Regions from separate parts of the Homo sapiens genome. Here all the other regions are linked to region 1. The links come from fine-mapping of genetic effects on gene expression. A gene starts in region 1. Each other region holds a variant in brackets. All regions are shown on one strand. Distances are between the middles of the regions.

What was found. PIP is the estimated chance that this variant, and not a neighbour inherited with it, causes the effect.
Region 2: its variant is the best candidate, but not a certain one, in a credible set for the expression of KIF13B in whole blood (INTERVAL, PIP 0.78).
Region 3: its variant is the best candidate, but not a certain one, in a credible set for the expression of KIF13B in whole blood (INTERVAL, PIP 0.83).
Region 4: its variant is the best candidate, but not a certain one, in a credible set for the expression of KIF13B in whole blood (TOPMed, PIP 0.55).

What each region holds. Positions count from the first base shown.
Region 1 is chr8:29,260,423-29,266,479 of GRCh38, forward strand. KIF13B (kinesin family member 13B) reads right to left here and starts at 2,648. Exons shown (of 40, transcript NM_015254.4): 1 at 2,558-2,648. The coding sequence starts at 2,612. RefSeq lists a silencer at 2,026-2,855.
Region 2 is chr8:29,089,462-29,095,518 of GRCh38, forward strand. It overlaps KIF13B (kinesin family member 13B), which reads right to left. Exons shown (of 40, transcript NM_015254.4): 37 at 3,284-3,417. Among named protein-coding and RNA genes, the nearest start is that of KIF13B, 170 kb to the right of the region's middle. The variant C/T (reference allele first, on the strand shown) is at 3,331.
Region 3 is chr8:29,187,653-29,193,709 of GRCh38, forward strand. It overlaps KIF13B (kinesin family member 13B), which reads right to left. Exons shown (of 40, transcript NM_015254.4): 4 at 3,345-3,405; 5 at 863-955. Among named protein-coding and RNA genes, the nearest start is that of KIF13B, 72 kb to the right of the region's middle. The variant T/C (reference allele first, on the strand shown) is at 2,840.
Region 4 is chr8:28,955,936-28,961,992 of GRCh38, forward strand. The region is part of intron 1 of HMBOX1 (homeobox containing 1); the gene reads left to right. Among named protein-coding and RNA genes, the nearest start is that of HMBOX1, 69 kb to the left of the region's middle. The variant G/A (reference allele first, on the strand shown) is at 3,400.

The sequences.
Region 1 (6,057 bases):
TAAGGTTGCTTCCGGCACCTATATGATAGAAACTATTAGGACTCAAGTTTTACTCTTTGTCATAATTATACAGTATTACATAATACTAATAACTGTTCAAAGTAATATTCTTTTCAAAATTACTGGAAAGGTTCCTACAGATCATACAAGGAAGAAAAAAAAGGAAATTACTGGAAAGAAATATGGTTTTGTTTTAGTCTTTTTTTTTTTTGAGACAGAGTTTCACTCTTGTCGCCCAGGGTGGAGCACAGTGGCACGATCTTGGCTCACTGCAACCTCCGCCTCCTGGGTTCAGGCTATTCTCCCGCCTCAGCCTCCTTAGTAGCTGGGATTACAGGCGTCCACCACCACGCCCGGCTAATTTTTTGTATTTTTAGTAGAGACAGGGTTTTGCCATGTTAGGCAGGCTGGTCTCGAACTCCTGACCTCAGGTGATCCACCCGCCTCGGCCTCCCAAAGTGCTGGGATTATAAGCGTAAGCCACCGTGCCTGGCCTGTTTTAGTCTTTTTATACAAACTTTGGACACCAATTTTTAAAAATCACTGGATTTACAATCCCACCACACTGTATTCCATAATAACCTTTATATTTATGTGAACAATTACTTCATAACAAAAATGGAAAAGAACAAATTTATGTGTGGTAATCACTGAAAAAAGAAGTCCACATGCACGTCAGGAAATATAAGGCTAAGAATGGGCACTAAGTGAACACAGGAGGTACTTTACACCAAATAATGCACTTCTCTATATAGGCTAATGGAATCTATGGGTAAACCTCAATTTCAAAATGATTGTTGAACCCAAGGATCAGCTCACATCCGTTCCACAGCTAAAACTATTATTCTTTGCCTTCCTCTAAACTCTGATGTTTATTACAACCTTATCAATGGCAATTTATAAGAGAAAAGCATAAGAATTTCCCTCAAAAAGTGAAACCAATGGGGAAAGGGAGAGGGAAAGGGCTCTAAATATCTGAGATGTCTTTTGTGGTGGTTGGTTAGCGGCCTCTTTTTAGCACTGACATTTCCAAGTTTTTTGTGAAAAGGAAATTTTAAGAATGTGCTGAAACCATCCTTTCAGAATCAATTCCCAGATAAGTTATGTTTCATTTGGCTTCTTTCTTTAAATTATTGTGATGGTAAACTGGAAGTAAACTGAAATACAGATACCTGAATATTTAAAAACTGATGCTTCTGAAAATTTTCAGAATTGTATCGACGTTTATTGTGTGTTGTCAGAGCACGAGATTAGTGAAGCAAAGCAGGACTCAATCTTGCACTAGTTGAGAACTTAAAGTAATTAAGTTCTTAGGGAAAAAAACTCACCTGACAGCTTTAATCGGACCTAGCAGGAACAGGACAAAACAATTCCCATAGATGAGATAACTCCAAGCGAGAAACCAATTTCCCCGAGAAGGACAAACCAACAAAGCTTATGTCAACTGGTTGATCTGTATGTCTCAATATATACAAAAGAAAGCAAAGAAGAGGAAAACAACCTATAATTTCTACATAAAAATTAAACAACACTTGATTTTGCTAAGAAGCTACAACTTTGTCTCTGGTACTTAAATGATTCTAATTAGTTCAAAGTCTCATCAATGGCAAAGTCATCTCCTGAGACAGTAATAGTGACCCCCAATGACAGGACCTTGTATATAAAGCGTTTTCAAACACATTATCTTATTTAAAGCAACTCACCCAGTCATGCTGCTTTGACTATCAAAGCCAAGACCCAGCCCACCTCCTCCCCTGACTTTTGGGGTTCTCTCCACTCCCCGGGTCTACAGATTATTTAAATGTACTCGGTTTATCTGCCTTCTCTACACTCCCTGCAGAGTTAAGAGAATGTCAGAAAGATACAATTCCACAAGAATCTTGGCACTTTAGCTATTTATTGAGAGATGATGAATGAGACTTCAGGCAAAACCAAAACTTTCTCAACTGTCCAAAAACAACGAAAAGGGCATCTCCTCCACCTGACCCCAATCTCAGGACGCCCAGGTGGAAGGAACTCGCCGCGGGGCACCCGCCTGGCCCCCTGCCCTTCTTCCCGCCGCGGGCCAAGGCGGTGCAGGCTTGGGCGACCCGGGCGAGACGCGGGGTCCCGGGGGGTCCCGGGCGGTCCCGAGGCGGGCTGCAGGGGCTGGCGACCCGCGCGCGGGGGCGACGATGACAGCTGGCGGGGAAGGAGCGAGGCTGAGGGGCCAGGACGAGGCTGGGCGCGAGGGCCGAGGGCGCCCTCGGGAACCTCCGGGGGAGACGAGAGGGCAAAAGGGCGCAGGGGCGGGGCGGGCGCAGGCGGAAGGGGCAGCGGGGCCGGCACGAGGGGCCCGACGGCGCCAGGGACGGGGCTGGCCAGGGGGGAAGGGAGGGGAGAAGAGGGAGCCGGGCGTCTCAGCGCGGGAGCGGGTTTCAGGGTCCCCGGGCCCCTCCTCGCGCCCCGCCGCTGACTATAGGGGCGGGGCCGCCGGACCCCCCACGGCGGCCGAGGGAAGGGCGCGCCAGGCACCTGCCGCCTCCGCCCCGGCGGCCCAGGAGGGCTCGGCTCTCACCTCGCCGGTTCATGGGTCGTATCCGCACCGCCACTTTCACTTTGGAGTCCCCCATCCTGCAGCCGCCGAGGAACTCGTTCGGCTTCCGTCTGCCGCGGCCACCGGCGACTCTTCGGGGTTGACCCGGCGGGAGGGGGCCGGGGGCGGAGCCGGGGGTGGGGACCGGGCTGGGGGCGGGGCCGGCGCGAGCTCCGGGCGCTCCCCGCTGTATGGCGGGACTTGTAGTTCCCCAGGGTCGTCGTGGGCGGGGCCGCAGCGAAGGCGGGGGCGGGAATGCTCGGGCGCGAGTCGTTTGCTACAACTTACCTACAGCAATGACGGCTTTTGTAAATTACACACCATTCTTGCTCTCGCAGCCAGTATTGAGAAGTAAGCCTTCAAGAGCTGATACCTCTTCTGAAAAACAATTGAATAGATGGCGTCAGGGACCCCGCTACCTCTTCCTGCTCATTTCCTGCCAATCTTAGTGTTTGATCCCTGGCTCAAGTTATTTCCTCTGCCTGGATTGACGTCCGGCCTTGTTTGCTGAGCTCGTCCTTCACGACAAGTTGCAAATCACGTTTTCTGGGAGTGTCCATAGGTCCACGGGTTAACATTGTCCTGTGAGTCCCCCTCCTTTGAGACAGGACCTTGGGCTCTGAAAACCATCTGAGTTCAAAGCCCACCTCAGCGCTTCCCACTGTGTGACCAGGGGCAAGTTATTTGACCGCTCTGGGCTTGTCTTTAATATGAAAAGTGGATATGATACTAATACCTAGTAAAATAGGTACATTTTTAAATAAGATTAACATATGTGTAACCTAGCCTTTAGTAGAGACCCATAAACATTAATTGCATGAATTAATGAATGAGGCCACACTAAAATTAGCTTTTTATTAGCCCTGGCAGACATTCTAACAGGTGGCCTGGGTGCCAGAGCCAGCACGCAAACATGTTCTGTTTGGCCCAACAGTGTTGGCCAACACATAAAAATCAGATTTGTGGCCAGGTGCAGGGGCTCACACCTGGAATCCCAGCATTTTAGGATGCTGAGGCAGGAGGATTGCTTGAGGCCAGGAGTTTGAGACCAGCTTGGGTAACAGAGTGTGAAATCAGATTTGTGCATGCAGTACTGGGCCTACATTACATATTGGACAGAGTGGATTGGAACTAAATAGCAGCAGCCACCTTTATCAGAGACCCGTCTCTCCACTTCACCACGGCCCCCCTCCAGGTGGCTTTACCACACATGCGCCTGGACCTTGTGGGTTTGTGACCCCTGCTTAGATGTGTTTAAATGATAGTAATAGAACTCAGAACCATTTTACAGATGAGTAAATACAGAAAGCTGGTAAGACTTGCCCTTTTACCAACCATCCTGTTATTGAGTATCTTCAATACAAGCAATGTTGTCAAAAAGTATAAAAATACTTTTTTTTTTTTGAGATGGATCTAGCTCTGTCACCCAGGCTGGAGTACAGTGGCATGATCTCGGCTCACTGCAACCTCCACCTCCTGGCTTCAAGCGACTCTCATGCCTCAACCTCGACAGTAGCTGGGATTACAGGCATGTGCCACCAATCCTGGCTAATTTTCATATTTTTAGTAGAGACGTAGTTTTGCCATGTTGACCAGGCTGGTCTCGAACTCCTGACCTCAGGTGATCCACCCACCTCAGTCTCCCAAAGTGCTGGGATTACAGGCATAAGCCACTGTGTCCGGTCTAAAAATACCTTTAAAAGAAAGGAAATTCTGAAACATGCTGCAACATGGATGATGGGCCTTGAAAACATTATGCTAGGTGAAATAAGCCAGACACAAAAGAACAACCACTGCATGGTTCTACATATATGAGATACACATGGTAGTCAAATTCATGGAGATAGAAAGTAGACTGGAGGTTACTAAGGGCTAGGAGAAGGGGGTATGAGGAGTTAGTATTCAATGGGTGCAGAGATTCGGCTTGGGAAGATTTCAGCTGCGGAAATGAATGGTGGTGATGGTTGCACAACAATGTAAATGTACTTAACGCCACCTAACCACTTAAGAGTGGTTAAGGCAGTAAGGTTTTTTGGGTTTTTTTAGAGACAGGATCTCGCTCTGTTTGCCCAGACTGGAGTGCAGTGGTGTGATCATAGCTCACTGCAGCCTCAAACTCCTGGGCTCAAGCGATTTTCCTGCTTCAGCCTCTCACCTAGATGGAATTACAGGTACGCACCACGACACCTAGCTAATTTTTATATTTCATTTTTTGGTAGAGATGGAGTCTCGCTATGTTGTCCAGGCTGGTCTTGAACTCTTGGCCTCAAGTAATCCTCCTCACTTCAGCCTCCCAAAGCACTAGGATTACAGGTGTGAGCCATTACACCCAGCCAAGATGGTAAGCTTTTTGTTGTTGTTTGTTTGTTTGTTTGAGATGGAGTCTTGCTCTGTCGCCCAGGCTGGAATGCAGTGAGTGACATGATCTCTGCTCACTGCAGTCTCTGCCTCCTGGGTTCAAGTGATTCTCCTGCCTCAGCCTCCAGAGTGACTGGGATTACAGGTGTGCACCATCACACACAGCTAATTTTTATATTTTTAATAGAGATGGGGATTCACCATGTTGGCCAGGCTGGTCTCAAACTCTTGACCTCAAGTGATCCACCCACCTCAGCCCCCCCAAAATGCTGGGATTACAGGTGTGAGCCACTGTGCCTGGCCAATAGTAAGTTTTATGTTACGTGTTTTTTATCAAAATTTCAAAAAAGGTTAAAAATAGAAAATGCTACCCCAGAAGGCCCTCTTTTTTAAAAAAGGAAATTTCTTTCTTAGGGGCACTGCCTCTGCACTTCAGGAGGTCTCATCTAGACCAGCAGTGGGTTTAGTGCAGCAGGTCCTTTGATTTTCACAGCCCAATAAAGTAAACAACATCAGGATAACCAAATTAGGATTGCCAATCTCAGTGTTTGACACTATGACAGCTTCTTAATTTTAGCAAGTATATATTTTTTTGAGACAGGGTCTCATTCTGTGCCCAGGCTGGAGTGCAGTGGCACCATCTTAGCTCACTGCAGCCTCAACCTCCCAGGCTCAAGCGATCCTCCCACCTTAGCCTCCCAAGTAGCTGGGACTACAAGCATGCACCACCATGCCCAGCTGATTTTTAAATTTTTTGTAGAAACAGTGTCTCGCTATGTTACCCACTCTGGTCTTGAACCCATGACCTCAAGTGATCCTCCCACCTCAGCCTCCCAAAGTGTTGGAATTACAGGTGTGAGCCATTGTGCTAGGTCACCGAGTAAATTATTTGAAAAAGAATGCACACAAAAATTACTATCTACCATCACTATCTTTTTTTTTTTTTAAAAAAGATCATAAAGGGTATGATTTTATATTGAAATTGTTTTGCCCTACTGTTCTTTTGCTCTTATTTAGTGTTGAAGTCACCTTTGCCATGGCCCCAGACTGGTTACCACAGGTTGGTACTCTTGTCTTAAACACACATCCTAATTACCACCTCCCTACATTCAGGTTATAAAAAA
Region 2 (6,057 bases), 170 kb before region 1:
TTCACATGTCAAACAATAGACATTTTGCATCTTCTATGTACCAGGCACCATTCTGGCACAACAAGCCTTGCCCTCAGGGAATATTGTGGAGAGGGATAATTGATAAACATATAAACCAAACAATAACTCCCGATAAAAAGGTCAGAAATGGGCCAGGTGTGGTGGCTCAAGCCTATAATCCCAGCACTTTGGGAGGCTGAGGCGGGTAGATCATTTGAGGTTAGGAGTTCGAGACCAGCCTTGCCAACATGGTGAAACCCCGTCTCTACTAAAAATACAAAAATCAGCCAAGCGTGGTGGCAGGTGCCTGTAATCCCAGCTACTCAGGAGGAGGAGGCAGAAGAATCCCTTGAACCCAGGAAGTGGAGGTTGCAGTGAGCCAAGATTGCACTCCAGCCTGGGCAACAGAGCAAGACTCTGTCTCAAAAAAAAAAAAAAAAAAGAAAGAAATGGTAATGTAGTGCCTGCATGTATGGTGGAAGCTGTTCTGGTGTGGCTGTTCAACAAAGCCCACTCTAGACTCAGACGTCCTTCCTCAGAGTGGCCTTTCCTGAATGTTCTACGGGAGGCCTTTGGGAAGAGCAGCCTGGGTGGGTGGCAGGGCCAGCGCCAGAGCTCTTAGACTGAAGGCGCTTCACATGCTTATAGGCTAAAAAGGCAGCTTATCTGGCTTAGTACTGGTGAGCGAATAAAGAAGAACGAAGATTCAAGGCCGGGGTACAGGCACTGCAGGGCACTGTGAGCCACAGTGAGAAATTCACATTTCACTCCTTTCAGTGGGAGACACTGGAAGGTGTCACACCACTGACGACTGTGAGGCTGTGAAAGATCATTCTGGCTACTCTGTTTAAACAGCTAAAGCCACGGAACTCAATGAGATTTATGCATGGAAGGAAACAGGTTTAAAAACAAAAAAGAACACCCCCGTTGGAGCTCTGGGCACTGGATGTAAAGACTTGATGGAATCTACAGTCCCAGGAGTGGATCGCGGACCGAGGGAAGGGAAGTCAGGCGAAGGAAGTTGCACTGAAGCCTGGAGATGTAAGTGTTTCCAGCATTATGTTGACGCCAAGTCTGCAGGATGAGGACAAGGCGGTGTGGGCAAGGGGGAGCTCCCTGGCCACCCTGAGAAAAGGGAAATGCCTTCCAAGGAGCAGAGTTCTCACAAACCAACTGGAATGTTCTGGCTTTACTACCAGGTATCTTCATCAAGACCAGTTTTAGATTTATATACTTTATGTATTTTTATTTTTATTTATTTACTTTGAGACAGAGTCTCACTCTGTCACCCAGGCTGGAATGCAGTGGCATGATCTTGGCTCACTGCAACCTCTGCCTCCCGCGTTCAAGCGATTCTCATGCCTCATAGCCTCATTCTAATTCTCATAGCCTCCTGTGTAGCTATGACTACAGGAGCACGCCTGGCTAATTTTTGTAGTAAAGACAGGGTTTCGCCATGTTGGCCAGGCTGGTCTCAAATTCCTGACCTCAGGTGAGCCACCTGCCTTGGCCTCCCTGAGGGCTGGGGTTATAGGTGTGAGCCACTGCACTCGGCCATATATTTTATATTTTTATGAAATACAAAATATTTGTATGAGGCCAGTTTTCCCAAACCTTTGCTCATATGTGCTCAAACAATAAATGAACAGACTGGAGTAAATGAATAAAAATTGCTTATGAAATCTTCTATATATTTCAAGGTAACCTCTAACCTGGGCATTATAGTTATTCTCCAATCACTACATTTGTTTCTAACACACTGTTGTTCCTCTCACTTCCAGAGAGAGCTAATCACTCGTTGCCAAAACAGTAAGAGCATAAGTAAGTTCTACAGGTAGCAGGTGATGTGACTTGCTACATGGAAAACTGAAAATAGCTTTAAAGGAGAATAGTAATGATGGCAGGCTGACTCCGTGACTTCCAACGTGATTCCAATTTCCTTCAACCTACATGACTCCGCCTTCACCAAACAGCAACTGAAAACACTGGATAGCAGACTTCACTGAATAAAAATAAGAATCACCACAGACAGGCACTTATAAATGCAGATTACAAGGTCTCTCCAAGTTAGCTATGGGTTCCCAGCGCAGGCTGAGAAACTATTTTTTAAAACAGCTCCTAAATCTGACAGTTCATGAATCACACTTTGTGAAACAATGATGCAGAAGTTTAGAACTGAATAACGTACAAAATAATGACCCACTGGTTCAGTTCTGGTGGATCTCTGGGGAAAAAAAGCACTGGGAAAAATAATCACTGCCTACCTCGGTCCCCACAGGACTTGGCTCCTGCAGTCATAGATTCATTTCAGTAACTCTCAAGCCCCACCATGTGTCTAAATACAATTTAAACAGCTGTAAAATCTTGGTTTTAATTGTTTCATCTACTGTATGTGTATGCTTATTTATATGCTTATATAAAGCTAGATTTTTAAAAATTACATATCTGCATGGCAGCCTGATAAAACTAATTCCTTCTCCCCTGAATATGCATTCATACACTTAGAAAATTCTTTAGTTAAGTCTCAGACGATTCACCTGGATTACTGCAACTTGAATGTTTAGAAGAACGTGAAGAAGCTGATGTCAAAAGACCTATTTGGACAACAGAACTTGCCCTGTATGTGTTTTTGAATGAGTATAAATAAATCCTCATTTATCATTTTCTGCTGAGTTAACACCTATATAACGCTGGAAATTGCATTTCCAATGGGGTTCCCATTCACTATTGCATAAGAGCAGCTTCCTGATTGTTTGGAAAACCTTTTCGCATTTGCTCTAACACTTACCCTAGAGCTGGGTAAAGAGTTTTAAGAGAAAAGGATATAAGACAGGTGATCACTTTTCAGTGAAAGAACAGGTTATCCACAGCAGAGAAAACAGAGGTTGAGAGGGAAGGGCACTCATGATATAAAATTGTTTGAAAAAACAAATGAAATCAAAAAATAAAAATAGAATTACATTTTCTACTTGGCAATACACAAACAATGCTAAGTGCACTTCATAAATTTTACTACCGCTGCTCTAAGTGTTATTACCATACATCACATTAGCAGTGTCCTTGGCACTTCTTAAAAGCAGAAAGGAAGGAGTGTGTCCGTAAGTTTAAACAGCTCTGTTATCTCTGAAGAGAGTGGCGGAGAAAAGACCGACAGCTGTTTCTGGGTTTAAAAACCCAGTTTAGCCCCAACCCAGAGGCCGCACCTCCACCTCCAGCTTTGGCGCAACACAGAGCACCGCTTTATTAGAAAAACGTTCACAGCTGTTTTCTCGGTGCTTTTTACCTGGTGTGCGAGGGGAGACGGCCGCTTGCCCCTCTTCTCATCGCGGA[C/T]GGGAAAGAGAGACTTGAGGAGCTTTGGCATTTGCGGCACGAAGGATTTGACAGGATTCAAGTAGGATGCTGCAAGGTTACTGAGTCCTGCCCATATTACAGGGGAAAAAGATAAAACAAATACAATTACATAGACATCTTCTTTCCTGTACATTTGACAGACATCACTTGTCAGCAAATCTAACAAAAACCAAAGGTATCCTTAAAAAATATTAGAGAAACACAGTATTATTGTAGTTTACATAATTTCCCTCAAACATAGTAATGTCTCTTTTTCAATTAAATAGCAGTAACTGGGGTGCTGCCAAAATGCTCTAGTATGCAGTGTTCCTATCAGCATCAGAACAGTAATTCACCTCTATCCTGTCACTAATTGGCACAAGCATTCACTTCTGCCCTAGAATAAAATGGGATTGGTTTTTAAGTCACACTGCCAATGACACAGATGTATAGCTCTTTGTCTAGACTTTAAGCTCTTTGAAGTCAGGGACTATGTCTTATTCAATCTAATTTTTCATAACTACTGAAGGAAGATGATGAAACTGACCTTTTGGGAAAAGGGTAAAGGGTAGTGTTTGAGTTGTTTGTTAAAAGTCAGGGAGAGACGCCCTGAACAACTTACGTTCTTACCTGCTGTTAATTTCCAAAGACTGGGATCAGAGGTACAGACAGGTATACTTATGATATACTAAGACTTCTTCCCCCTATTAATTTATAGTAAAATCTAATCCCAAGTCATAAGTGATAAAAAGCCGTATTCACACAACATTTAGAAATGAACAAGCAAGTCACCTTAAGGAATACATTTGCCTCAACAGATGCACACAACTCCCCCCAGATCTCTTCTCCACACTAACCCTGAAAGGATTCCAAACTTACTGGCAATTCAGTTGGTAAATGGATGGATACAGCTGTAAGGTTTCTACATTTTACATAAAGCAGTAGAATATTAAGTGTAAGTATACGGCAAAAAGTTAAAGATGTACATTGTAATCATGAGGGCGACCACTGAAAAATAAAAAAGCAAAGAGATGGCTATACCGAGCCGAGAGATACATCATACCTCAGTTTAGAAAAGTCCAATTATTTACAGCAAGACAAAAACAAGGATGAGAAAAATAAGAGAGGAGACAGAAAATAAAATAGGGTTAAGATGAATAAAGATCCAAAAATATACAATTATTTCAAAGATGAGGAAAAAAATTACAATCTAGAGTTCTGTATCAAATTAAACTAACATTCTAGAGTAAGGACAATCCCTCATTAAGTAAAAATCTAGCCAGTAATGAATCAAAGGCCGCACATATCACTAAATGAGACCATCAGACATTATGTGTCTCCAACCTCCCGACCACACATCCACACCCACCCACCCTACCACATGCATCCTTCTCAAATCAGCTGAATCGAATCAAGGATCTAGCTCTACCTACCAGTTCACAGGCAATACAGGGGACAGAATTGCGTTTCAACAGTCTCACGGGAACACAACAGGAAAAGTAAGAATGAACAGAATCTGCTGTGCAAGAACCTGGCCTACTGTGCCAGTCTACTCTACAAGAACCTAGTTTCTTCAACAAACACAATGCATGGTCGTGAAGTATTTCTCACCAATAAAAAATAAATGACTAATGCAATCAACAATCTGGGAAAATTTAACACGTATGGTAAGCAAAAGAGACAGACACAAAAAGGACATACATCATATGGCCCCATTTATGAAACTGCAGAAGTAATCTAGAGAAGTAGTCGTCAGAACACTGGCTGACCACAGGGAATGGGAATTAACTGGAGTCATGTCAATGTCCTATATTTTGACTGGGGTATGAATCACATGGATATATACAAATACATTTGGTAAAACATTAAATATGACCCACGGTCAACAAAGGAATCAATAAAAATAGACCATGAGATGTCTAGATACTGGATTTAACAGACAACGACTTTAAGGCAGCTTTCTTAACCAAGTCCAAAGATGCAAAGGAGAATACAGTCTTGACAAGTGCACAGACCAGGAACATCAGCGGAGAAATTAAAACTAGAAAAGCAGCAGCAAATGGAAATTCTAGAACTGAAAAAAAAACAATGACTGAAATGAAAAAATTCCCTGGATGTGCTTAACAGAGCCCTGGAAATCACAGAAAAAAATTATCCAACTAGAAAAAATAAAAAGATTAAAAAAAAAAAAAAGAACAGAGCCTCTGTGACCTGTAGGACAATATTAAACAATCTAACCTATGAGTAATTAGATTCTCAGAAAGAGCAGAGAGAAAAGGATGGGGGAAAAGTTTTAATGAATAATGTCTAAACATTTCTCACGATTGCTGAAAAACATCAATTTACGGATCCAATAACTTGATAAGCAAGTTAAATACTAAGAAAATGATAACTAAGCAAATCATAGTACAGTTACCACAAAGATAAAGAGAAACTTCTGAAAGTAGGTGAACCAAACAAAGATACCACACTGAGTGGGAGGTGACAAATGATGGCTGAATTCTCAGCAGAAAAGAAGGAGCTGGAGATGAGGAAACATCTTTGAAGTGCTAAAAGAAAAAACCTCCAACTCAGAGTTCTCTATCCAGTGAAAATATTCTTAAAACAACAACAAAACAAAACAGTGAAATAAAGATACTTTCAAAAAAGGAGAGCATTTTTCTCCAGGAGGACTGTACTCTTAAGAAATACTAGGCTGGGTGCGGTGGCTCACGCCTGTAATCCCAG
Region 3 (6,057 bases), 73 kb before region 1:
TGACACTTAAGTATAATTCCTTCTGTTTTTAGTAGCAGTGTTTTTGCAAATATGCTTTTAACCTACAAGTTGCTGCTTTTGTCATGCAACATTTTATTGTTATCATAATACCTAAAGCTAATGTGCCACATTTCCTAAGTACCAGGACTTCTGTAAAAAGTTTGCACATGGGAACTCGTTATGACAACCCTACAAGAAGGTCTATGATCATCAGCCTTTCCAGATAAGGACGCTGAAGGGCAGAGAGGTTAAGTAACTGCCCAGGTCTCTCTGCTGGCCAGCTGCAGGAGCAGGACTGGAGCTGTCGCCGCCTGGCCCCAGCTTTCTGCCCTTTCAACACGACACATGAGGCTTCTTGAAAATATCCAACACATTCTTCTGTGAGAACATTTCTAGTTGGACAAGCTGTATACTTTACTCTTACAAAAGTAACTAGTTCACTTCAAATTTTCTTTTCTTGACCACAGAGACTCAAAAGCCAAAAAGCTTCTTAGTTATTACTGGTGAGATATTAACAAGTATGTTCTTTTTGGTATTTTATCTGTTATGGTTCTGAAAGCCTTAAAAAAGCATGATCTATAGGCATGGCTAGTAATGTGTTCAACAGTCATAGCTCTGTATTTTTTCGAAAAACAATGCTGCCAGTGCCTTGTGAGAAAAATCAGTAAAGATAAAAGATCCCAATCCTAATTTTATTACACTCATTTTAAAATAATGTTACTGACTACTTTCAACATCTACAGTACTTTCTGAAAGCAAAAACAACAAGGAATAAATCAGCAATGTTACTCAGTAAAATAAACATGGTTCTATTTTCTTTCATTGATGGTTGTTTATGTGATTTCATGTTATTTAACATTACCAGTCTGTCCATAGGCAAAGATACATGCATTGTAGCCATCAAAAGCATTCTGCAGGATATTCTCTCCAAGGCACTTGAAAACAATATCTTGACCTGAGAGAGAGAGAATAAGAGAAAAGATATTTTAAGCCAAAACTACATATGAACAATTCACAAAACAAAAACAAAAATCTCAAAAATGTATAATCTGCTTATTTATCTCCAAACAAGATTTTTAAATTTGACGAATGCTCCCAAAGGCTTATGCCTTCCAGGTTATTTCTAGTTAGCACATGAGGGAAAATCAGCTCCCTGTAATACATGCTTGAATAAATAAACACGACTAAGAATCCCCTGCAATGCAGAGCCAATGAGCTGCTCACTTTATAATCAATGATTATAAATATCTGAAATTTATACTTGGGACCCAGGTGTACCTGGACTTAACTATTTACCACTCAGGCAATGCTTTTATTCGGTGGGTACCAGAGTTTAGAATAATCATATATACCAACCCCCTCTCCTTTCCCTCAGTGACAATTTCTAATTACAGGATCTACAACACATACCAGTTAGGACAGGGAGTCAGAGCCTGGAAATTTCCCTCAGCTTTCAATCATGGACATAAAGAACAGAGTCAAATTCTCCCCGACAGGCCAAATGAGATATGTCACTAGTCAGTAATTGAATGTGAATCTGACAAGTCACCCTACCTCACTTAGTCTCAATACCACATGGAAGAACTGGATGCTTTTATGTTATGGCAAGGGTATTCCATTATGTCTCATTTCCTTTTTTTTTTTTTTTAATACCAGTTAACTTATACTTCTGATATTGGGCCACCTAGACCAAATGAATCTTAACTTCAAAACAGCCATAATATTCATCTTTCTCATAACAGAAGCCAAAACAATATGATGCTTAATATTTAAAAGAGATTGTTTAAAAACAGGCGACAAAAGCAGTAAGGAATAAAGGCAATCAAAGGCTGTCACTGCAGTCCTAAACTTGTGGTGAGATGGGGCTTGAGACAGTCATCATTTAGAAGAATAATAGAGTAACAGACTTCCAGAGCCAAAAGAAAATTTAGAGAGAATATGGCATATTCCTTTCCATCAAAAAGAGAAAACTGAAGCTCTGACAGGTGAGGTGATTTACTGAAAGGCGCAGGGGCGGTAAGAAGCAGGGCTGGGCCTGCAGCCTAGGGTTCCTTTTCTCCTTGGCCGGTGCTCCCCTTCTTTCACTATGCCATCCTGTCTCTCCAGCCCAGTCTCAGGCCTCCAGGGCAATCTAAGGGGCGACCTTGTGCTCCCGGCCTCATGTAAGAGCTGGGGCGTGTGAATGTGGAATAGCCACTGTGTGTACTAGTGATGTAATTTCATCAACGTATACCAAGAATGGCACACAGTGAATCTCCCATTTTCCAATCAACATTAAAAACTCTAATAGCAAACACGGGAGGGTGTTGTCTGTACTTTCTACAGTTATGCAAAAGAATCCTATGGTACTCATATATATCCTATGGTAATTATAGAGATGTAGGTTACCATCCGCAGTTCCTGGCTCATTAACCCTTGTTGCAGTCTTTTACATGTTGGGGCATTTTAGCCTCAGGAAACTATCTGATCTCCTGCCCTCCTTTTACCTGCCGGAGGCAAGACTCTCATCTGATTGTGGGTCAAGAGCTTCTCATTCCACAAGGTCTTGCCTCATATCCTAAAGGAAGGAATGCTACACAGAATGGCCAAGAAAAGTCTGAACAGACAGGACGTGCTGTGTTCAGTCATGCACTTTTTGTCAAATCACATTTCTAATCGGTTGACAATCATGCCTATATAAGGAAGCCTCCATAAAAACCTAAAAGGACTGGGTTCAGAGAGCTTCTGGATTGCTAAACACACAGGGCCCAATAGGAAGGTAAGAACTCATCCACACGCCGGGAGGGCGCCGCGCCACCTCCATGAGGACAGAAGCTCCTGCGCTTGGGACCCTTCCAGA[T/C]CTCACCCTCTGTATCTCTTCATCTGGCTGTTTACCTGTCTCCTTTAAAGAAAATCCCTCGTAATAAACCCCTAAACACAAGTGTTTCCCTGAGTTCTGTGAGCCGCTCTAGGAAATTAATCAAACCCAAAGAGGAGGTTGTGGGAACCCTAATTGGAAGCCAGTAGGTCAGAAGTTCTAGAGGCCTGGACCTGCGCTGGTGGGAAGGAGGGAGCGGTCTTGTGGGACTGAGCCCTCAGTCTGTGGATCTGACGCTGTCCCCAGGTAGAGAGCATCGGAACTGAGTTAGAGGACACCCAGCCAGTGTCTGCCGCTTGGGGTGCAGGGAAAACTCCCCCAACATTTGGTCACATTAAGTCATCTTCTGTGTTGATGACTGTTATTGTGGTGTGACAGCAGAGGAAACACACAGTTTGGGGGGTTTGCCAAGCAATCGTGTAAGGGAAAAAATACTGAACCCCTCTTCTACACCATCAGTAGTTGACAGGATGCTGGATTCTATTACCTGCATACTTTTCTTTGACAGATTCATCCATAGACCAGAAACAATGATCATAAGCAAACACCTGTTGAAAATGAACATAAGTGTGTGTTAAGAAAACCTCAACATTACTTATAAACCATAACTGATAGAACTGTTCATAATAGTGAAATAAAACAACTTACTGTCATACAATGGGAATTAATTATGTATGTAGAGGCTTACAATGAGAACTAAACATGCTATAGGTGATATGACTCTATATTTTACATGGAAAACTATTCACAAAATGTGTAATAAAATGGCTATTGCACACACACATGCACCTACAGTCACACACACAGAATTACATCTATAGTTTATTTTTTTGCAGCGAAATTAGTGATCTGTTTCATGTTTTTATATTTTTTCAATATTTTTATTTTTGTAGTCAAAGAAAAAGATATTTTTTAAATAACATTTAAAGATGCTCACTATAGCATGTCCAAAATAGCTTAAAATAGCAGAATGTTTACATAAATTATGACATGCCCATGTGCAAGTATAGATTTGAGGGTATAGAAGACTTACTAATTTAAAAAAAGTTTATGTTAATGAAAAAGTTATAAAAGTCTAGAGTATGATTCCATATTTGTACCAAAAAACTATATGCATAAAAAGCAGGAACAATCTGTATTAAAATGCTACTTGGTGGGATCTTACAGATGATCTGTTTTGATCTTTCACCTTATCACCACTTTCTAGAATATCACATAGTTCTTTTGCACTGTTTGAAAAGCTTCTTTTTCACTAATTATTTCTTTTTAAACCAACTAAGCAAAGGCAAATTTTTCACTGACTGCATCTTTCACTTTTTCGATTTCTGTCAGTTTGAAATCTACTTACTTGTGTTTTGTGATTTTTATCTCCGTAAAGATTTTAAGTGCAATTGTTTTAAAATGTATCTCGGTTCACATTTTGTCACATTCTCCCACTTTGGGAGTCTGTTGCTATGCTTCCTGATGATGGTTTGCATGTTAGTTTGCAGGTACATCTTAGCAGGGAGTGTTTATTTTATGGTTTACATGATTGCTTATTTTTTCCTCTCCTGATGGCCACCTTTCCATGACTAGTTTATGCTGTCATTTCCATTACTGAAGCCCAGATTTTGGGTCTTCTCAAGGCCCAATGTCTCCATCCCTTCCTATTAACACAGACATTAGCTCAATGTTGGTGGCCAAAAACTGACTGTAAGCTTTCACTCACAGAGAAGGCTCGCCCAAATCAGTTTTCACATGGTGAGCCTGGCTCCAGTCCCCAACCATACACCAGTGCCCCCATTAGTCGGCAAGAGTTGAACTTCCAATCACCTCCAGGCACCTGGTCTGATTCCAAAGCCCTGGAAATATGTCACTTCAGCCCTCGCTTACTGCTGGTCCTTGAAGTTATATATGTTGTTGTTGTGTTTTTCTAGTTTTGTGTAGAGATGGGGTCTCACTATGTTGCCCAGGCTGGTCTCAGACTCCTGGCCTCAAGCAATCCTCTAGCCTCAGCCTCCCAAGTACTGAGATTACAGCTGTGAGCCACCATGCCCAGTCTAAATTTGTTTTTGAGTTTGATTACATGATTCGCACATTCTAAAATATTTTATCTATCTCTGCTATAATTTTGATGTTGGCAGGAGAATGTTTCTGTGTAAACTCACAAGATTATCTGGACCAGAAGTCTAAAAGGTTAATTTTTTTAAGAAAGAAAATTAGGTTAAGATGGTAAATTAATAATGCATACTGATATCCATCACCCAGCTAAAATTAACTCAAAACGACAGGCGATGGGGGAAGTGGGGAAATTGCCAAAAAGGAAGAGAAGGGGGAAAAAAGAACAAGGTTTTGAAACCAAGAGTGCTTGCTTGTGCCTGGATCAGAATTGAGAAACTCCTGAAAAAATAGTTCCAATGAAACTGATGGGGGTAAGGGTGGGGGCCTGCAGGGAGAGCACAGGCTGCAAAGCCAGTGAGCAGTTCTGGGAGGTACCAGAAGGGCAACTAAAGGGGGAGGCAGATAACCCTGGCAGCAACCGAGAGGACGACTGGCTCAGCACCTCTGGACAGGTGAGGATCGGCACACCTGCATCTCTGTGTGAAACAGCAGGCAGGGGAGACACCTGTTCCCTGGATGGGGCTGTGAGAAGGAAGCGAGGCCAGGAAGTGAAAGCAGACCCCCAGCGGCTGACAGCCCCTGAGAGCCCTTGGGCCCAGAAGACATCATCCAGCTGCAGTGTTGTGTTACACACTGCTCACCCTCCATGTTTTTCCAAAGCTAAAACGTATATCTATCAGCAGTGGTGGCTCACTAAGCCATTTTCAAACACAGAGGAGCAAAAGGAGGAGGATGGAAGATGGCCCCAAAGGACTGGGCATCAAACTGGGGGGAGCTGCCTTGCAAACTCCAGGTGTCACCCATAGTGAGAATCATTACAGCAGAGTAGGAGTAAATAAAATGTGGAGCTCAAACGAAGTTTCTCCTGTTCTAGCTTTCCACGCTTATCTCCATAATTTTATTTAATTAATTCTGTTCTTAATAAGGCTAAGTAAAAACCATCCTGATTCTTGTAAGCTTAGTTCTCACTTCAAAAGCCCTATCACATGTGTATACAGTCATCCCTCAGTATCCTGAGTGGGACTGCTTCCAGGACCTCCCATGAATACCAAAATCCACAGATGTGCAAGTCCTTATATAAAATGGTGTAGTATTTGCAT
Region 4 (6,057 bases), 300 kb before region 1:
GAGTGAGACTCTGTCTAGGAAAAAAAAAAAAAAAAAAATTGGAAAGTAGGACGTTCTTGTATATATTTCCTTATGTATGGTTACTTTTATTTCTGTAGAATTGATTCTCAGGAGTAGGATTGCTAAATTAAAGGTGTAAGCTCTTTAAATTTTAATATATATCACTATATTTCTTTCCAAATGATGTCATAATCACATTTAGACCAATGAAATATGGTAGTATGATTGAAGATATGTCTGTTAAATTTTTACTGAAGTGATATCTCATTGTTAAACTGTTATTTCCTTGACTTCTAGTGCATTTGAGTATTTTTTGAATAAACTTGATAACTTGGATCTGCTCTTTCTCTACATGTCATGTTTTTTCCAGTTTAACTGCTTAAGTTTTTTTTTTCTTCATAATAGGAAATTTTTAACGTTTTGTTTATCTTTTGAAGTTTCTGGTCTTTGTTAAGCATATCTACAAGACCTGTCATCTTCTAAATTTTGTTGTAGATGTATTACTATGATTTATTTTTTACATTTGTCTTTATTCTGCCTGATACTTATTTTTTACATATAATGTAAGATAAAAATGCAATTGTTTTTTTTGCTAGATGATAACCAGTTTTTTTATTATAATTTTAAAAAATATGTATTCTTTCCTGCTGAATTAAAATGTAACCTTTGATAGCACATTGTGCCATATGTGCTGTAATCTATAATTAAGATCTTTATTCTGTCCTGCTCATTTGTGTGTGCGTTTCTATGCCAGTGCCATATTGATTTCATTACAGTGGCTTTTGAATGTATTTCTGATTATCTGGTCAGAGAAGTCCACTTTTGGTTTTCTTCTTTTGCACAATTTTCTTAGTAGTTCTTAAACTGTCTGCTCTAACCCCATTAAAAAGTGGACAAAAGACATGAGCAGACACTTCTCAAAAGAAGACTTACAAGCAGCCAGCAAACATGAAAAAATGCTTATCATTAATCATCAGTGAAATGCAAATCAAAACCACAGTGAGATACCATCTCACACCAGTCAGAATGGCCATTATTAAAGTCAAAAAACAACAGACGTTGGCAAGGCCACTGTAGAAAGCAATTTGGAGAGTCCTCAAAGAACCAACAATGGCCTGGGCGTGGAGGGTATAAACCCAAAGGAAAATATATTGTTCTACCAAAAAGACACATGCACCCATGTGTTCATTGCAGCACTATACACAATAGCAAAGACATGCAATCAGCGTAGGTCCCTATCAACAGTGGAACGGATAAAGAAAATGTACATTTATGCCATGGAATGCTACCCATAAAAAAAGAACAAAATCATGTCCTTTGCAGCAATGTGGGTACAGCTGGACTCCATTATCCTATGTGAATTAATGCAGAAACAAAATTAAATACTGCATGTTCTCACTTATAAGTGGGTGCTAAACTTTGGGTACACGTGCACATAAAGATGAGAGCAGTAGACACTGGAGACTCCAGGAGTGGGGAAGGAGGAAATCGGGGCAAAGGTTGAAAAAATAACTGTTGGGTACTATGCCCACTACCTGAGTGATGGGTTCAGTTGTACCCCAAATCTCAGCATCATGCAATATACCCTTGTAACAAACCTGCACATGTACCCCTTGAGTCTAAAATAAAAGTTGAAAAACAAAGCCTTTCTGCTCTATTAGGTCCTATTTTTATTTATTTATTTTTACTATTGTTATTATTTTTTGAGATAGCGTCTTGCTCTGCCGCCCAGGCTGGAGTGCAGTGGTACGATCTCGGCTCACTGTAGCCCCAGCCTCCTGGGTTCAGGCGATTCGCCTGCCTCAGCCTTCTGAGTAGCTGGGATTATAGGTGTGTGCCACCATGCCCAGCTAATTTTTGTATTTTTAGTATAGACGAGGTTTCACCATGTTGGCCAGGCTGGTCTCGAGCTCTTGACCTCAAGTGGTTCGCCCGCCTCAGCCTGTCGAAGTGCTGGTATTACAGGTGGTTCATGCCACCACGCCCAGCCTAGGTCCTATTTTTAAATTGAAAGGAAAACCTTTTTGGCTTCTTTCTCAATATAGTTATTCATAAATATTGGGAAAGGCTATCCCTGTCAATGAAAATCTCTTTCCCATTCTTTTTCTAGATGTTTCCTGCTCAATTAGAGAAACTTAATTTTAAAAGTATTGTATCATATCTCAATTTAATAATTTCTTTTATTTCAGGGTTTGGTTTTATTTTGTTTTGAAAGATACCGAGGTTTTGCTATATTGCCCAGGATAGTCTTGAACTCCTGGCCTCAAGCAATCTTCTTGCCTCAGTGTCCTGAGCCGCTGGGATTACAAACGTGAGCCACTGCAGACAGCTAATTTTCAGTTTTTTAAAAATATAATTGCTTGAGTTTTCTAGACATTGTATTGCCAAATCATTGACAAAAAGATATTTTTCTCTTTTATTCCAATATTTTTGCCAGTTAATTCTTTTCTGTCTTACCATTTTTCCTGTAAACTTTAAGTCAGTGTTTACTTATAAAGGATTTAGTGGGCTTCTCACTCTAATTCCTAATTTTATTCGTTTGATTTATTGTATAGGTAATAACATTCACATGGTTAAAATAATTTTTTAAAAAAGCTTCCTATGAACAGCTTCCTTCCCATTCCTCTCCGTAATCTCTGTAGTTCCTAACCCTGCATTCAAAGTAACCACTGTTATTGGATCTCTTCCACAGATTATTTTATGCATATAAAAGTGAAATTACACACATAGATACTCTCTCTATATATATTTATTGTGTGTGCATGCAATCTTAATTTTATTTGAAATGCTTTTAGTGTTTTGCTGTTTAGAATAATATTTGCCCTTCTTATGTTTTTACCAGAGTGTTTTTTTCTCTAGTCTTCTTTTCCATAGTTTTTTGTTTAAAATGGCTAAGTTTTACTGAATGCCTTTTCAACATCTATTGATATAATCATGTAATTTCTCTGCCTTAAATTGGTTGATATATTGGATTATGTTGATTTCCTAAAGATGGACCACTCTTGCATTTCTGCGTAAATTATAGTGGTATACAATGGACCCCCCTTATCCACCGGGAATACATTCTAAGACTCCCAGTAGATGCCTGAAACTGCAGATAGTATCAGACTCTGTGTATACTATGCACAGATTTCATTTTCCTTCTTCACAGTTTCACAGAAGATTCATTCTTCTTATAGATCTTAGTAATCTCAGCATATGATTTTTTTTTTTTAACTTAAGTTGAGAGCTTTCACCTTTTCACTGAACGGAAGCACTTTTGGCTTCTGTTTGGTGTATTGAAATTGCCAGCATCATTATTCTTGAGCTTTGGGGCCATCATTCTGTAGAATAAGTATTACTTAAACAGGGGCACTGTTAGATACCAGGACAGTCAGTGTGATAAGCTAGACAGCTAGT[G/A]AGTGAGTAAGGGTCAGGTAGGGTCTACAGTGTGGATGCCCTGAAGGAGGAGCATGAGGTTTCTAAGTTACTAAGAGTGGCTCACATTTTAAAACTTATGAATTGTTTATTTCTGGAATTTTCCACGTAATATTCTCGGACCATGGTTACTGCAGGTTACTGAAACCACAGAAAGCCAAAGTAAAACAGCAGATAAAGTGGGGGACTACTGTATTATTTCTCATATGTCCTACACTCTATAGTCTAATGTGAGTTTTTACTTAGATCTTTTACATTTAATTTTTAAGTGAAATGGTATGTTCTGTATACTACCTTTATTAGGTTTGCTGTTGAATAATTCTGGCTGCATAAAATGGATTGGAACATTTCCTGTATTTTTCTATAGTTTAGTATTATTAGAATTATGTTTTTTAAATAGATTAAGTCTGCTGAGAACTCAGCTGATTTTGATGCCTCTTTCTATAGATTCTTAATTACCTTTATTTTACTCTATTTGGTTTGACTAAAGAGTTTATTTTTTGGTCAATTTTGATATATTCTGTTTTACTGGGAAATCGTTTTTCTCTTTTAGGTTTTTAAATGAATTGTCATGCAGTTGCATTTATAATTTCTTAGGGTTTTTTTCCCCCAATACTATGGCTGTATTTTTCTTTTCCTTCTGAATCTTACCAGTTTTTTTCTCTCTTTTCTCTTTATTAGACTTTCTGTGTAATTATTTAATAGTCTTTCAAAGAGCCAACATTTGGACTTACTTATGCCTTCTGTAGCTTCATTTTATATTAATTTCAAATATTATTTCTTAGTTCCATTTTTCTAGCTTATTTTGGTGTACAGTATTTTATTTTTCTATTTTTTAAGTACTATTTTTTCTTTTGACTTTTAAAAATGAGCCACCGTGCCTGGCCTGGATTTTTGTTATGAAGAACAATCCTCTTTTTTGTCACAGTGTATTGTTATGTTGGTCATAATTTCTTTTGTGGTTTCTTCTTTGATCCAAGGGTTATTTATGATTATCTTGTAGTTTATAAGTAGTTATTTTTGTACATTTTTCCCTAGATTGTTTGGATTATATATATGAAATTAAACCTTTTGTTTTACCGTGTTTGTGATCAATTATGGTAATGGACATAGGGAAAAAAAAACTTCTTTGTTAGAAGGTTTACAAAGTATCTTTTTATCTTTAAAATTATGTTTATTGATAATATATCAAATTTCTGTTTTTTAAATTTTCTCCAACTATATTTGTTCATTCTAAAAGGTATACTGAAATAACTCATGTTTATACTTTAAAAAAAAATTATTAAAGTAGTTATGATTTTTGCTTTATTACCTCTCATGTTATTTGGTCTTTGTGTTTGTAACTCTTATATCTTGGTCATAAACTGTATATTTTATAATTGTAAACTTATTCTCTTTTTCTTTTTCTTTTTCTTTTTTTTTTTTTTTTTTTTTTTTTTTTTTTTTTTTTTTGGAGACGGAGTCTTGCTCTGTCGCCAGGCTGGAGTGCAGTGGTGTGATCTTGGCTCACTGCAACCTCTGCCTCCCGGATTCAAGCGATTCTCCTGCCTCAGACTCCTGAGCAGCTGGGACTACAGGTGCATGCCACCATGCCCAACTAATTTTTGTGTTTTTGGTAGAGACGGGGTTTCACCATGTTGGCCAGGATGGTCTCGATCTCTTGACCTCATGATCTGTCTGCCTTGGCCTCCCAAAGTGCTGGGATTACAGGCATGAGCCACCAGGCCCAGCCTCTCTTTTTCTTTTATAGGTTGCTTGTTTTCTATGGCCAGGTGCTTGAATGTGATCCAGCATCCATAAATTTATATCCCTAATGCCTTTTAATATAAAGTTTTTATTATAATGTTCTACTTTTTTATTGTGTTGAAATATGCATAACATAAAATCTACCATTTTAACGTATATAGTTCAGTGGCATTAAATACATACAGTATACAGCAGTCACCACCATCCATTTCCAGAACATTTTCATCCTCACAGATTGAAACTCTGTACCCTTAAATAATAACTTCTCATTATTCCTTGCCCATTTTACCCACCATGCTACTTTCTGTCTCTGTGAATTTGACTACTCTAGGTACCTCATGTAAATGGAATCATATAATATTTGACCTTTTGTGATTGGGTTGTTTCGCTTAGCATCATGTCTTCAAGTTTCATTCATGTTTTTGTGTCAGAGTTTCCTTCCTTTTAAAGGCTGGGACAATATTCTGTTTGTATATATATCACATTTCATTTATCCATTTATCTGCCAGTGGACATTTGGGTTATTCCCACATTTGGCTTTTGTGAATAATGCTGCTGTGAACACAGCCTGATTCCACTTCTTTTGGATAGATATCCAAAAGTGGAATCGCTGGATCATATGGTAATTCTGTATTTAGTTTTTTGAGGAACTGCCATACTGTTTTCCATAGTGGCTTCACCATTTTGCATTTCAGCCAGCAATATACAAGGATTCCATTTTCTCCACATTATTGCCACACTTGTTATTTTATGTTTATTTTTATAAATAATAGGCATTCGAATGGGTGTCATTTTATTTTTTTTTTTTTTTTTTCTTTTTTCTTTTTTTTTTTTTGAGACAGGGACTCATCATGTTGCCCAAACTAGCCTTGAACGTGTTGCCCAAACTAGCCT